4 linked regions of the Homo sapiens genome follow. The protein of the gene in region 4 purifies or fractionates together with the protein of the main gene of each other region. This does not show direct contact. Each region holds a gene or a part of one and is shown on either strand. Other genes may lie near its edges. The genes, in order: ZBTB21, KIF13B, WRAP73 and STARD13.

What was found.
Region 1: the proteins of STARD13 (region 4) and ZBTB21 purify together in Homo sapiens (affinity purification with mass spectrometry, with the first as the bait; one large-scale study listed by BioGRID). This does not show direct contact.
Region 2: the proteins of STARD13 (region 4) and KIF13B purify together in Homo sapiens (affinity purification with mass spectrometry, with the first as the bait; one large-scale study listed by BioGRID). This does not show direct contact.
Region 3: the proteins of STARD13 (region 4) and WRAP73 purify together in Homo sapiens (co-immunoprecipitation; one large-scale study listed by IntAct). This does not show direct contact.

Annotation. Positions count from the first base shown.
Region 1 is NC_000021.9:41,993,347-41,996,915, reverse strand, and holds part of ZBTB21 (zinc finger and BTB domain-containing protein 21), read left to right. Parts: intron 1-2,807; 5' UTR 2,808-2,820; coding exon 2,821-3,569. UniProt on the Homo sapiens protein: Acts as a transcription repressor.
Region 2 is NC_000008.11:29,253,035-29,256,603, forward strand, and holds part of KIF13B (kinesin-like protein KIF13B), read right to left. Parts: intron 1-3,569. UniProt on the Homo sapiens protein: Involved in reorganization of the cortical cytoskeleton. Regulates axon formation by promoting the formation of extra axons. May be functionally important for the intracellular trafficking of MAGUKs and associated protein complexes.
Region 3 is NC_000001.11:3,643,544-3,647,112, forward strand, and holds part of WRAP73 (WD repeat-containing protein WRAP73), read right to left. Parts: intron 3,240-3,569; coding exon 3,123-3,239; intron 1-3,122.
Region 4 is NC_000013.11:33,128,747-33,132,315, forward strand, and holds part of STARD13 (stAR-related lipid transfer protein 13), read right to left. Parts: intron 1,544-3,569; coding exon 183-1,543; intron 1-182. UniProt on the Homo sapiens protein: GTPase-activating protein for RhoA, and perhaps for Cdc42. May be involved in regulation of cytoskeletal reorganization, cell proliferation and cell motility. Acts a tumor suppressor in hepatocellular carcinoma cells.

The sequences.
Region 1 (3,569 bases), on a different chromosome or scaffold from region 4:
AGGGAAGAGAGAACTTGTGCAGGGGAACTCCTCGTTATGAAACCATCAGCTCTCCTGAGATTTATTCACTATCACAAGAAGAGCATAAGAAAGACCTGCCCCCATGATCCAGTTACTTCCCACTGGGTGCCTCCCAGATGTGGGGAATTGTGAGAGCTACAATTCAAAATGAGATTTTGCTGGGGACACAGCCAAACTGTATCATTCCACCCTGGGCCCCTCCCAAATCTCATGTCTTCACATTTCAAAACCAATCATGCGTTCCCAACAGTCCCCCAAAGTCTTAACTAATTTCAGCATTAACTCAAAAGTCCACAGACCAAAGTCTCTTCTGAGACAAAGCAAATCCCTTCCGCCTATGAGCCTGCAAAGTCAAAAACAAGTTAGTTACTTCCCAGATACAGTGGGGGTACAGGCATTGGGTAACTACAGCCGTTCCAAATGGGAGAAATTGGCCAAAACAGAGGCTTACAGGCCCCGGTGCAAGTCCAGAATTCAGCAGGACAGTCAAATCTCAAAGCTCCAAAATGATCTCCCTTGACTCCATGTCTCACATCCAGGTCAAGCTGATATAAGAGGTGGGCTCCCATGGTCTTAGGCAGCTCTGCCCCTGTGGCTTTGCAGGGTATAGCCCCCACTCCTGGCTGCTTTTATGGGCTGGCATTGAGTGTCTGTGAGTTTTGCAGGCACGCAGTGCCAGCTGTCGACGTATCTACCATTCTGGAGTCTGGAAGATGGTAGCCCTCTTCTCACATCTCCACTAGGCAGTGCCCCAGTGGGGACTCTATGTGGGGGCTTCAACCCCACATTTCCCTTCTGCATTGCCCTAGCAGAAGTTTCTCCATGGGGCCCTGCCCCTCATGGAGGGGACACAGCCCTGCAGCAGACTTCTTCCTGGATATACAGGTGTTCTCATACATCCTCTGAAATCTAGGCGGAGGTTCCCAAACCTCAGTTCTTTACTTCTGCACACCTGCAGGCTTAACACCACATGGAAGCCGCCAAGGCTTGGAGCTTGCACCATCTGAAGCCATGGCCCAAGCTGTACCTTGGCCCCTTTCAGCCATGGCTAGAGCACCTGGGACACAGGGCACCAAGTTCCTAGGCTGCACACAGAAAGGGGGCCCTGGGCCTGGCCCACAAAACCATTTTTTCCTCCTAGACCTCTGGGCCTGTGATGGAAGGGGCTGCTGCAAAGGTCTGACATGTCCTGGAGACATTTTCCCCATTGTCTGGGTGACTAACATTCGGCTCCTCCTTACTTAGGCAAATTCCTGCAGCCAGTTTGAATTTCTTCTCAGAAAATGGGATTTTCTTTTCTATCGCACTGTCAGGCAGCAACTTCTCCAAGCTTTTATTCTCTACTTCCCTTATAAAACTTAATGCCTCTAACAGCACCTGAGAACCTCTTGAATGCTTTGCTGCCTAGAAATTCCTTCTGCCAGATACCCTAAATCATCTCTCTCAAGTTGAAAGTTCCATAGATCTCTAGGGCAGGGGCAACATGCCACCAGTCTCTTTGCTAAAACATAACGAGTCACCTTTGCTTCAGTTCCCAACAAGTTCCTCATCTCCATCTGAGACTACCTCAGCCTGGATTTCATTGTCTGTATCATTATTGGCATTATGGTCAAAGCCATTCAGCAAGTCTCTAGGGAGTTCCAAAGTTTCCCACATTTTCCTGTCTTCTTCTGAGTCCTCTAAACTGTTCCAGCCTCTGCCTGTTACCCAGTTCCAAAGTCGCTTCCACATTTTCGGGTATCTTTTCAGCAGTGCCCCACTCTACTGGTATCAATTTACTGTATTAGTCCATTTTCACACTTCTAATAAAGACATACCCAAGACTGGGTAACTTACAAGAAAAAGCGGTTCAGTGGACTCACAGTTCCACGTGGTTGGGGAGGCCTTTTAATCGTGGTGGAAGGCAAGGAGGAGCAAGTCACATCTCACATGGCAGCAGGGAAGAGAGAACTTGTGTAGGGGAACTCCTCTTTATAAAATCATCAGATCTCATGAGGCTTACTATCATGAGAAGAGAACGAGAAAGACCCACCCCCATGATTCAGTTACCTCCCACTGGGTCCCTCCCACGACGTGGGAATTGTGGGAGTTACAATTCAAGAGGAGATTTGGGTGGGGACACCACCAAACCGCATCACCTGGCAAGGTGGCATGTGCTTGTGGTCCCAGCTACTCAGGAGGCTGAGTGGGAGGATTGCTTGAGCCCAGGAGATTGAGGCTGCAGTGAGCCATCATGGTGCCACTGCACTCCAGCCTGGGTGACAGAGAGATACCCTGTCTCAAAATAAAAACAAGGGTCTCACAAGACCTGCTTTGCAACCAATTGTTAACAGTTCACATTATGTTTAAGTATATGTAGTAATAAAGCTGATTTTCTTTCAGAATTATAGACTTCAGGGGTTTGATAATTCGTACTTGTTTTCTGAATTGGTAAGGAATAGTGCCAAGCATCAAATGGATAAGGACCCTAAATAATAAACCTTTATTTTCAAATATTGCTTCCATATCTACCTGCCAAGTTCTGGCAGCCTTTTTGATGATATACAAATGCCTATATTATAGTTCCTGCAATTCTTCTATTTTAATGAGGACCTACTTAAACCACGAGACTTATTTTACATTTTCACCATTATTTAAATAAGATTGTTCATTCATAGAGCTTCTGTTAGCCTACGGTCTGCTAAATATTGGTACCTATGCAAAGACAGCTGATGTTCCCTGCTCTTGAGGAGCCAGGGGAACTTTTCACTGCAATATCTGTAGTAATTTTACATTTTGTCTTTTAGATAAACTCAAGCCATGGAGGGATTACTGCATTACATCAACCCTGCACACGCCATTTCTCTCCTAAGTGCCCTGAATGAGGAGCGTCTCAAAGGACAGCTGTGTGATGTGCTGCTGATTGTTGGAGACCAAAAGTTCCGAGCTCATAAAAACGTCTTGGCTGCCAGCAGCGAATACTTTCAGAGTTTATTCACAAATAAGGAAAATGAGTCACAAACTGTATTTCAGCTTGACTTCTGTGAGCCAGATGCTTTTGATAATGTTTTAAACTACATTTATTCTTCCTCTCTATTTGTTGAGAAGAGCAGCCTTGCTGCTGTGCAAGAACTTGGCTATAGTCTTGGGATTTCCTTTCTGACTAACATCGTTTCTAAAACACCTCAAGCCCCCTTTCCAACGTGTCCTAATAGAAAAAAAGTGTTTGTAGAAGATGATGAAAACAGTTCTCAAAAGAGAAGTGTCATTGTTTGTCAAAGTAGAAACGAAGCGCAAGGAAAAACTGTTAGTCAAAATCAACCCGATGTAAGCCATACTTCCCGGCCCTCTCCTAGCATTGCAGTCAAGGCCAATACCAATAAGCCACATGTCCCAAAACCAATAGAACCACTTCATAATTTGTCATTAACTGAAAAGAGTTGGCCGAAAGATAGTTCTGTGGTATATGCAAAGTCTCTTGAGCATTCTGGATCTTTGGATGATCCTAATAGAATCAGTTTGGTGAAAAGAAATGCAGTGTTGCCTTCAAAGCCTCTGCAAGACAGAGA
Region 2 (3,569 bases), on a different chromosome or scaffold from region 4:
TGCCAGGTTAGGAGAGGAGATGTGATAGTGTGAAAATAATTAAAATAATCCCCCAGCTACTTGGGAGTCTGAAGCAGGGGGATCACTTGAGGCCAGGAGTTCAAGACTAGCCTGAGCAACACAGCAAGAACCTGTCCCTAAAACAAATTTAAAAAAAATAATTAGCCAGGTGTAGTGGCATGCACCTGTAGCCCAGCTTCTCAGGAGGCTGAGATGGAAGGATCATTTGAGCCCATGAGTTACAGGCTGTGATGAGCTATGATTGTGCTACTACACTCCAGCCTGGGCAACAGAGCAAGACCCCATATCTGAAAACAAATAAAATAATCCTATGTGACCAAAAACATAAAATGTTCATACTCAAGAAATGAATCAGCTGGGTGCAGTGGCTCATGCCTGTAATCCTAGCACTTTGGGAGGCTGAGGTGGGAAGACATCTTGAGCCCAGGAGGTCAAGGTCATAGTGAGCTATGATCACACCACTGCACTTCAGCCTGGGCAACAGAATGAGACTCCATCTCTAAACAAATAAACAGTTTAAAAAAGAAACCAATCAACCTCAGAAGACTAAGAAACAGGTATTTAAAAAACTCATAAGGCACCTGGCCAACATGGTGAAACCCTATCTCTACCAAAAATACAAAAATTAGCCAGGCAGGGTGGCAGGCACCTGTAATCCCAGAAACTCAGGAGGCTGAGAAAGGAGAACTGCTTGAATCTGGGAGGCAGAGGCTGCAGTGAGCCAAGATTACGACATTACACTCCAGCCTGGGTGAGAAGAGTGAGACTGTCTCAAAAAAAAAAAAAAAAAAAAAAAAAAACCCGCTTAAGGCAGAACTAGAATAGCCAAAACAATCTTGAAAAAGAAAAACAAAGTCAGAGGACTTGACTCCCAGTTTCGAAACTTAATACAAAGGTAGAGTAATCAAGACAGTGTGGTACTTACATAAGGAAAGACATATATACATTGATGGAATGGAATTGGGAGTCCAGAAACATACTGTCACAGTTATGGTCAATTGATTTTGACAAGGGTACCAAGACAATCTAATGGAGAAAGAACAGTCTTTTCATCAAATGGTTCTAGAACAACTGGATATCCACATGCCAAAGAATGAAGTTGGATCCCTACCTCATACCACATTCAAAACTCCAACTGGATCAAAGATCTAAATGTAAGAGCTAAACCTATCAAACTCTTAGAAGAAAACAAATGAAAATCCACATGATGTTAGATAATGGTTTCTCAGAAATCACAGCAAAATCACAAGCAACTAAAAATAAACTGGACTTCATCAAAATTTAAAACTTTCATGCATCAAAGGACACAAGGGAGTGAAAAAGAAACCCATAAAATCAAAATATTTGCAAATCATCTATTTGATAACAGAATGGTATACAGAATGTATGAAGAAGTCTTACAACTCAGTAATAAAAAGATATAGTTTTTGAAATAAGGGGAAGATGTGAATAGAGATCTCTCTCAAGCTATACAAACGGCCAATATGCACATGAAAAGACGCTCAACATTATCTACCAGAGAAAGGCAAATCTAAACCACAATCAGATACCACCTCATACCCACTAGGATAGCAATACTCATGGAGAGAGACAAGAACAAGTGTTGGTGAGGATGTGGAGAAAGTGGAACCTTCATGCATTTCTATGGGAATGTAAAATGGTTCATATGCTTTGGAAAACAGTTCCTCAAAAGTTAGTTACTATATGACTCAGAAATTCCACTCCTATACATATGCGTATCTGAGAAAAATGAAAACACATGTCTACACAAAAGCCTGTACATAAATGTTCAAAGGAGCATCATTCATAATAGCCAAAAATTGGAAACAAGCCAAATGCCCATCAATTGATGAATGAATACAAAACACAGCATATCTGTGTAACAGAATGTTGTTCAGCTATAAAAAGAATGAAGTATTGATTCATGACAAAACATGGATGAGCCCTGAATACATTATACCAAGTGAAAGAAGTGAGATACAAAAGTCCACATAATATAGGATTCCATGTATTAAATGTCCAGAATAAGCAAATCCATAGAGTCAGGAAGTAGATTAGTGGTTGCCAGGGGCTGGGAAGTGGGAAATGGAGACTGACTGCTAACAGTTACAAGGTTCCTCTGTGGGGTGATGAAAATGTTCTGGAATTGTATACTAATAATGGCTGCACAAGTCTGTGAGTAAACTAAAACCCAGTGAATGGTACACTTTGGGGATGTGACTTATATCTAAAAACCAAGAAGAAAAAACTCGGAATGGATGACCCCAGTACCCTCAATAGATAGAAAATACAGTTAGGGTCCTTCAACCACATTCCTACACATTCACTACTCAGAAGACCCCAGCTCACCCAATTCCTCCTACTTTCAATAACCTCACATTCTACCCCATCAAGAAAATTAAGCTTGAAATTCCTGGGCTTTCCCATTATATAATTATTCTCTTCCTCCCATATTTCAAAAACTTCTATCTATTGGCTCTATCTATACAAGGTTCAAATATCTCCCCAAAACTTTTTTTTTTAAAAAAAGGTACCTACCCCTCCAGGTACCACTCTGAACCCTCCCCTTCTACCTGGAGTTTCTCAGAGGAATGTTCTTGAGACTCGCTGCCTCCATACTGGCACGCCCACTCACTCCTCAGCCCACTGCCAATGCCCAATACCAATTAATTCGTTTCAGTGAAATTATCCTGAAAATGAACACTGACCATCATAATGCCAAATCCACTGAACACAATTCTGTGTTAATCACGCGGCCATTCCTGTGACATGTGATTGCTTTCACCTTTCACTCTTTTGACACATTTTTCCTCCCTAGGCATCCACAACATTGCTTTCACCTGATTCTCCTGAGGTTGCTCTTCTTGGCCTCTGTGACCGCCTCTGTCACAGACACACCTGAGGTGCTCTATCTTCTACCTACAGTAATGACTCCGAAATCTACACCTACGTCCAGTCCCTTCGTTTCAGACTCATATTCACAATGGCCTTCTGGATCCATCCACCTGGCTGCACTTCAGACACCTAAAACTCAATTGTGCTGAGTTGCTTCCAGGCACACACTGCATCTTATTCATAGTTGCAGGCAGGGTACACAGCACATAAGCACTGACGACACACTGTTGACTGAGACTAGAACTCATCATTTCCCACACCTCCACCCTAAAACCTGCTTCTCCTGTGCTTCTGATTCAGTTAATGACACCAGCATTCACCTAGTCATCTAAATCAGAGACTTTGCAGCGGATTCCCCAAGTTCAGTGATCCTCAGATGCCGACACAAACCCACTGTATGTGCAGCACCCATCTGGATTCCTCCACGTCACCCCGGTGGAACTTGGAGCCAAGGGGCCTGCTTGTGCTGTCTTCTGTGCTGTTCTCAAATTCCACCCCCATTTCTTTAATTCATGATTGGCTGCCATCAGTGCACTAGGTACATATATTCTTCCAATGAACTCACATGTGCATCTTATTATCAACAAGACTGGGAGCTCCTTTGATGGAAGATCAAGACTTATGCTTCCAGTTTATCCTGCACATCTTTGAAA
Region 3 (3,569 bases), on a different chromosome or scaffold from region 4:
GCAAGTGGACTCAGCGGCCCCACTAACCCCCGAAATGGGGTCGCGCCTTCGGAAGGGGACCCAGCGGCCCCGCTGAGCCCCGGACATGGGGTCGCGCCTTCGGAAGGGGACCCAGCGGCCCCGCTGAGCCCCGGACATGGGGTCGCGCCTTCGGAAGGGGACCCAGCGGCCCCGCTGAGCCCCGGACATGGGGTCGCGCCTTCGGAAGGGGACCCAGCGGCCCCGCTGAGCCCCGGACATGGGGTCGCGCCTTCGGAAGGGGACCCAGCGGCCCCGCTGAGCCCCGGACATGGGGTCGCGCCTTCGGAAGGGGACCCAGCGGCCCCGCTGAGCCCCGGACATGGGGTCGCGCCTTCGGAAGGGGACCCAGCGGCCCCGCTGAGCCCCGGACATGGGGTCGCGCCTTCGGAAGGGGACCCAGCGGCCCCGCTGAGCCCCGGACATGGGGTCGCGCCTTCGGAAGGGGACCCAGCGGCCCCGCTGAGCCCCGGACATGGGGTCGCGCCTTCGGAAGGGGACCCAGCGGCCCCGCTGAGCCCCGGACATGGGGTCGCGCCTTCGGAAGGGGACCCAGCGGCCCCGCTGAGCCCCGGACATGGGGTCGCGCCTTCGGAAGGGGACCCAGCGGCCCCGCTGAGCCCCGGACATGGGGTCGCGCCTTCGGAAGGGGACCCAGCGGCCCCGCTGAGCCCCGGACATGGGGTCGCGCCTTCGGAAGGGGACCCAGCGGCCCCGCTGAGCCCCGGACATGGGGTCGCGCCTTCGGAAGGGGACCCAGCGGCCCCGCTGAGCCCCGGACATGGGGTCGCGCCTTCGGAAGGGGATCCAGTGGCCCCGCTGAGCCCCGGACATGGGGTCGCGCCTTCAGAAGGGGACCTAGTGGCCCCGCTAATCCTCGAACGGGTCTGGTCCTTGCTCTTGTGAATGAGACTGATGGACGGTGCCCGCAGCTCACTTCCTGGCCAGCACGTCTGGAATTCCGGTTTTGTTTCCTCACTTGCAACCATTAAAGTTCGCATGCAAAGCTGGAGACACATTTTGACATCTTGGTCAAGATGCCCCATGCCTTGAGGTTACCGGTCCTCATCCACCACCTGGTCTTAACGTTTCCTCTAAGGCCACCAGCAAAGTGGTCATGACCTTAGTCTTAGGTTGAACAATGTCATCTAAATGTACTCTATGAAAAATCAGTTTGTTCTGTAGCAAAGGTGTTTTCAATATTGGTGTGTGTGACATGGGATGCTCAACAAAACCAGGCTTTTATCCATCTTTTAAGGTTTCTAAACTCTATAGATGGTAGTTTTCCTTCTGGGCCATTTAATAAGATAATACAACAAGGCTGACCCCATGACATGAGCCCTTCTCAAGGGCAGATTTGGGCCCAAAGCATTACAGGCCTGAAGACTGTTAGACACGGCTGCGTGAAAAGCTCAAATTATCCTCTCTGAAACACTCAGGCCGAAAGTGCCTTCCAATGTCAATACATAGTGCGGAGACATTGGTGGGCCTTTGTTTCCTGTCTTATTCTCTGACAGCCCATAATAGCAGACATTAGATTTGGAGTATTTTTTAAAATCGAAACTGAAAAATATGTAAAGCCATCCAGCCATCTGAAGCAGTTGATTCAGCAACCCTCATGGCTGGATAAAACTTTATCCCAGCCGATGCCAGCTTGAAAAAAGCCGAATGAAACCCTACAGAGCATCTGCAGCCACACGCTGGGAGAAATCCTCCCAGGTGCCATCATCTACGTGGTGTGCGCGGCGCAGCGGGACGGGAGGGCTGCAGTGTGGTGTGAGCGGCGCAGCGGGATGGGCGGGTTGCCCCGTGGTGTGCGTGGCGCAGCGGGACGGGCGGGTTGCCCCGTGGTGTGCGCGGCGCAGCGGGACGGGCGGGTTGCCCCGTGGTGTGCGCCGTGCAGCGGGACGGGCGGGTTGCCCCGTGGTGTGCGCGGCGCAGCGGGATGGGCGGGTTGCCCCGTGGTGTGCGCGGCGCAGCGGGATGGGCGGGTTACCGAGGTGCAGCCAGCAGCCCAGACAGCTATGAGCACTCAGTGGACTTGGGCCCAAACACTGGGATCCAACTCCATCAGAAAAGCACATTATTAAAGGAATTCGTCCATTTTTCTGTATCTTAAAAAGACACTGCGGACACCAAAGACCTGGTATCTAAACACTTGACATATGCCTAATTTTAACTTAAAATGCAGTCTCCTATCCCAGATCCCTCTGATTTATTCTCGGATGTCAACATTCCCCTCCGCGCTGAGCTCAGCACGGAGGCTGTTGTGCGGTACCTACAGCAGGTGAATGGGCGGCTGCCGACCGCCCCGAGCCACGCCCCCAGGCCAGGCTCCTGAAGGAAAGGTGCGAGCCGGCTCATATCACAGCGCATTTTCTATCGTTGAATTAAAGGGAGTGCCGAAATCCTAAAAAATCTAAATTAAGATTTTTAAAATGTTTTTTCTTCAAAACTGGACAAAAGATCAGACAATAATACTTAGTGGCTTATAATGCTCTGACCTAAAATATACACACCACTATATACGCTCCCCGGCTCCCTCCAACCCCGCCAATCTACCAGCCACTCGGGAGCCACCTCAGTCATCAGACCCAGGGCAGCAGACAGTGCCTGTGTTCACGACACCCTTATCTGACTCAGTAGCAGCCCAAAGCACGGGCGGTGGGGCTCGCAATCTGGATACGCCAAAGAGAAGCCACAAAGTGCTTCCTTTAAATGACGAGCTGAAAGTTCTTGACGCAACAAGGAAAGAAAAAATCCTATGCTGAGGTTGTTGCTCAGATCTTCAGTAAGACCAAATCTTCTATCCATGCAATTATAAACAGTATATTGTTATCCTTGTTCTATACTATGATTGTTGCTAATCTCTTACTGTATCTAATTTATAAATTAAATGTATCACAGGTATGCTGTATAGGAAAAAACACAGGAAATACAGGGTTTGGTACAATCTGAATCCCCTGGTGGTCTTAGAATGCATCCCCTGAGGATAAGGGGAGACTAGCATACTCCAAACACACCCCCTCTCGCACTCCCCAGCTGTTTCGAGAGCAGAGGACAGGATCACATGGCCAGTAAGGTGTCTTGGGGCTGACACTTACATGGAATTCCGTGGTGTTGAGAATGTGGCGCCCGTCCGGGCTCCAGCACGAGGCCACCAGCCCGGCTGAGCCCTCGTCTATTTTGCAGTGCCATTCGGGCTGCTCTAAAGACCAGACCTGGATTGAGAGAAGAAAGAAACACACAAGTGCAAACTCATCAGCACCGAGAGACAGCGAGGACAGCTCGCTTAAACGCAGCGGAGACCCGACCGCACAGGGTGTCTTCAAACTCATCAGCAGTCTATAGCGAGGCCTCGCCGAGAGACAACTCCCTTAAAACCAGCAGAGACCCGATCACACAGGGTGTCTTTTAGAACCTTTCATGATGAAGGGCTGGTGCTGGATTCCAGTGTAAAAGTAAGCCACGCTTCTTGGTGATTTCATTTCGTTGTTGTTTTAAAACTGTTTATTCACATTGTCATTCCTAAGACCTCATTTAGTTAAGCT
Region 4 (3,569 bases):
TCAATCACCATGATACCTGTACAGAAGTCATACTTCTGTTCAAATAATTCCTAATCACATACATCACTTAGAACAGAGTCAGGCATTTAGTAAGTACTCTGTGTATGTTTGTTAAAGAAATAAACAGAACACAATTACTATGAAATGGATGAAAAATCATTTCACAAGTGCATGCCACCTACCTGTTTGGCCTGGTCAGAGAGGCCCCTACACCAGAATCCCTCCTGTCTCTGACCCCAGGAGGCTCAGATTCATTAAGAGATGTTACATCTCTTTCCACATCACTGGGTGTCGTCCGACCTTCTGAGACAGAGTTACCTTCAAAATCTAAGGTGATCTGATTAGGAGATGGAAAGGTGGATAAGCCAGGTTCCCCAACCAATGTATCATGAGTTTGCAGTTCAGGCAAGACATCTTTGGACCAGTCATCGACTACCTCTTGGAGCCCATTGACATGCTGCAGAATGTCATCCAAGTGAGGGAAAAGGTCATCTTTCTCCAAGTCCAAAAGATCTCCTGTGCTGGCATACAGATGGGAGCCAGGGACATTGTCATAGATACTGACTCGGCTGGCTCTGTGGCAGGACGCCATGAGCCGGGGCTCCCTGGCACCAGGGACCTGCTCTCTGCCCAGGGAGATGCTACCGGTCCTCCAATTAACCCCATTGCTACTATCTGTGGGAGAGAGGCTTTCAATAGAAAGTGCCTTGGGGAATGTTCCTGGTTTGTGATCCTTGGGAATATGCACCACCAAATTCTCTTGGGAGTGAAATTCATGCATACGGCTTTGGTCCCCTGCATCCGGCAGTGCTGTCCCCGCCAGCACATCTAGGTCCTCCAAGTACATGCCCCCGCGCTTGTTGGCCTCGTGGCACTTGCGTTCCTTCAGGCAGGGCGTGCTCACCCCGCTGCTGCTGTGCTCCGACGGGCTGCTCTCGCCACTCGACTTGCCAGAGCATGGGAGCCCTTTTCTGCAGGCAGGTGGCGGCGAATTCTGGAGATCTCCATTTGGTATTTGGATGCACTGCATAGCCTTAAAGGACTCTGGCTCCTGCTGCAACATGGGCCCACTGATCACCAGGCCACCTGTCCGCCCAGACCCCTTATGCCTCCCGTGGGCTCCCTTCCCTCGGAGTGTTTCCATGCGTTTCAAAAATGATTTGGCCCTAGCCCTCGTGGGCTTCTCATTCTTGGGGTGGAAGGGGTGGTTGAGGACATCTCTGGGGGGCTGTGGGAGGCTGCTGCTGACGAGTGGGGCATCCAGCATGACCGGGTTGTCTGTACAGCACTGGCCCGGCTGGCTGCGACTGTCGCTGCCTCCACTGCTTTCGCTGTGAATGGAGCAGACCTCAGGCTCGCTCAGGTCTGTGAGGACGCTCTCACTGCTGGTCGTGTTCCTCATCCCCGTGCCTCCCGGTGACCCATTTCTGTCTCCTCGAGGGAGCAGCGTGTAGAGGTCGTCCACACGAGACCACCTGCGACTGGTTCTTTGGAAAGTCCATTTGTTGCTGATACAAAGATCTTCCTCATCGGAGTCGTCACCCTGCAGAGCACCAAGGAAAATGCTCATTAGCAGACAGCGTGGCTGAAGCAGGAACTCTGGGTGCTCTGAGGGCAGCCCTGTGTGGTCCTCCACCTCCCTCCCCTCTGTCCTCCCATGCACAGGTGTGAGCTTCTTGGGCACCTCTAAGCTGTCCTTCTACCACTTGCACTGTCTTGTACATACCCTTCCTCCCAGTGGCCAGAGGACCCTTCTCAACTTGCCAAACTTTCTTCCTTCCCATTTTCAAAGAGGTTTTGAATGCCTCCTTCCTTCCTCTCTAAGAAGTTTTCCCTGACTGATTATAAAGAGGGTATAATTACATCAGACTAGACGGTCTAAATATAAAGCACCTGCAGTCTTCTTTTTCACAAAGGAACTCAACTCTGCCATAAAAGGCACTTACTTCTTTCCAGAAACCTCTTCACTGAGCCCCGGGGACCATATTTCCAGCTTGCCCCATCTGAATCTCAGCTTCAGTATATCTCAAAGCTAACACTCCTTATTTTAGTCCCCTGCACTTGATTCTTATCGTGTATTCCCTGGATAAGGTAACAGCAAAATGAACCACTGAATTTCTTTAAGTAGAGATGAGGGAGCCATTCTGGAGATCGCTATTTGTGATCCAATCCGGCTACTCTGCATGAGCGTCTTTTTCTGTGGAATCAACTCCGAGTCAGAATGCCGTTGGCAGGACGCACACCTCTGTGTGGCTGCAGTGGGTCCCCGCGGCTTGGCACTGTCTTACACTTTGGGCCTCACACATTGACTCTAGGTGTCTGGTTTCTGCCTGAATTTGCAGCCCCTGAGAGGGGAGCATCTGCATTCCCTGAGGCCAGAGATGGCCTGGTTTAGCTTTGCATAGCCTTGGGCCCAGCGCAGACCTTGACCTAGAGCATATCATTTCCTTCTGAAATAAACTGAATCATCGGATCCTGCTTCATCCTCACCAAGCACATCACCAAGACCTAATTCTGAACTGATTTTCAAATCTGTTCCCTCATTCGTAATTTCACTCTCATTCTCTTAGTGTAGGCCTTGCCACCTCTCTCTGGATCTGTTACAGTAAAAATGTGGGAGAAACCCTGTCTCCAGCATCTTCCCCATCTAAATAGCTTTCCACAGTGTAGTCCAAATCGAATCATATGATTTTTTTTTTTCAGCTTAGAAGCCTTCTGCTTGAAAGCCTCCACTCTCAGTTGTTACAGGTGAAGTCATCAAGAGCCGGGCCTGCTACAGTGAGCCGTGATGGCACCACTGCACCCCAGCCGCAGCAACAAAGTGAGACACTATCTCAAAAAAATAAAAAAGAGCAAGACCTGTGTTTCTCTGTTTCATTATTCATATAAACATATTTATTCATATGTATAGCCTGTCCAATGCCAAGGACATAATAATTGCTTATTTTTTGTGAATTGAATTAAATTTATTTTACTCTACCTGGGTGTTCAGTTTTAAGACCTGGTTCCAAGTGTCAGTGATACCAGTTAAGAGCTAGGTGACTGTCCACAGTCTACTTACCCTCTCTAAAGTAAGTTTCTGCCACTTATAAGATTGAAGCGGGTCTTGCCTCATAGGTTTGCTGAAGAGAATAAAGAAGGTAGTGCATTCAGCAGTCCCTCACTGAGAGGTATTTGCTTATTTGTATCTTTCAATGTTTGTTCAATTGCCTACTAATCTTTTTATGTATCTAGCGTCCACTTTAACTCCCTTTAACCTTGCAGTGTGTTGTTTTTAAGGAAACCTAAGCAGATGCACAGTTAATCATTGTGGGGATCCTCCTATTCTTGTTTATTCCTTCAAAATCTAGTTTCCGTGTAGGTTTGACTAAATGACAAACTTGAACATTCAAGTTTAAAGTGAAAGCGAGTACAAAGCCAAGGTACAGAAAAGAATTCTATGGCTTAGAAGTCAGGTGCGGTGGCTGATACGGTTTGGTTGTGTTCCCACCAAAATCTAATCTTGAATATTGTAGCTCCCATAATTCCCATGTTTTGATGTGTTATGGGAGGGACCCGGTGGGAGATAA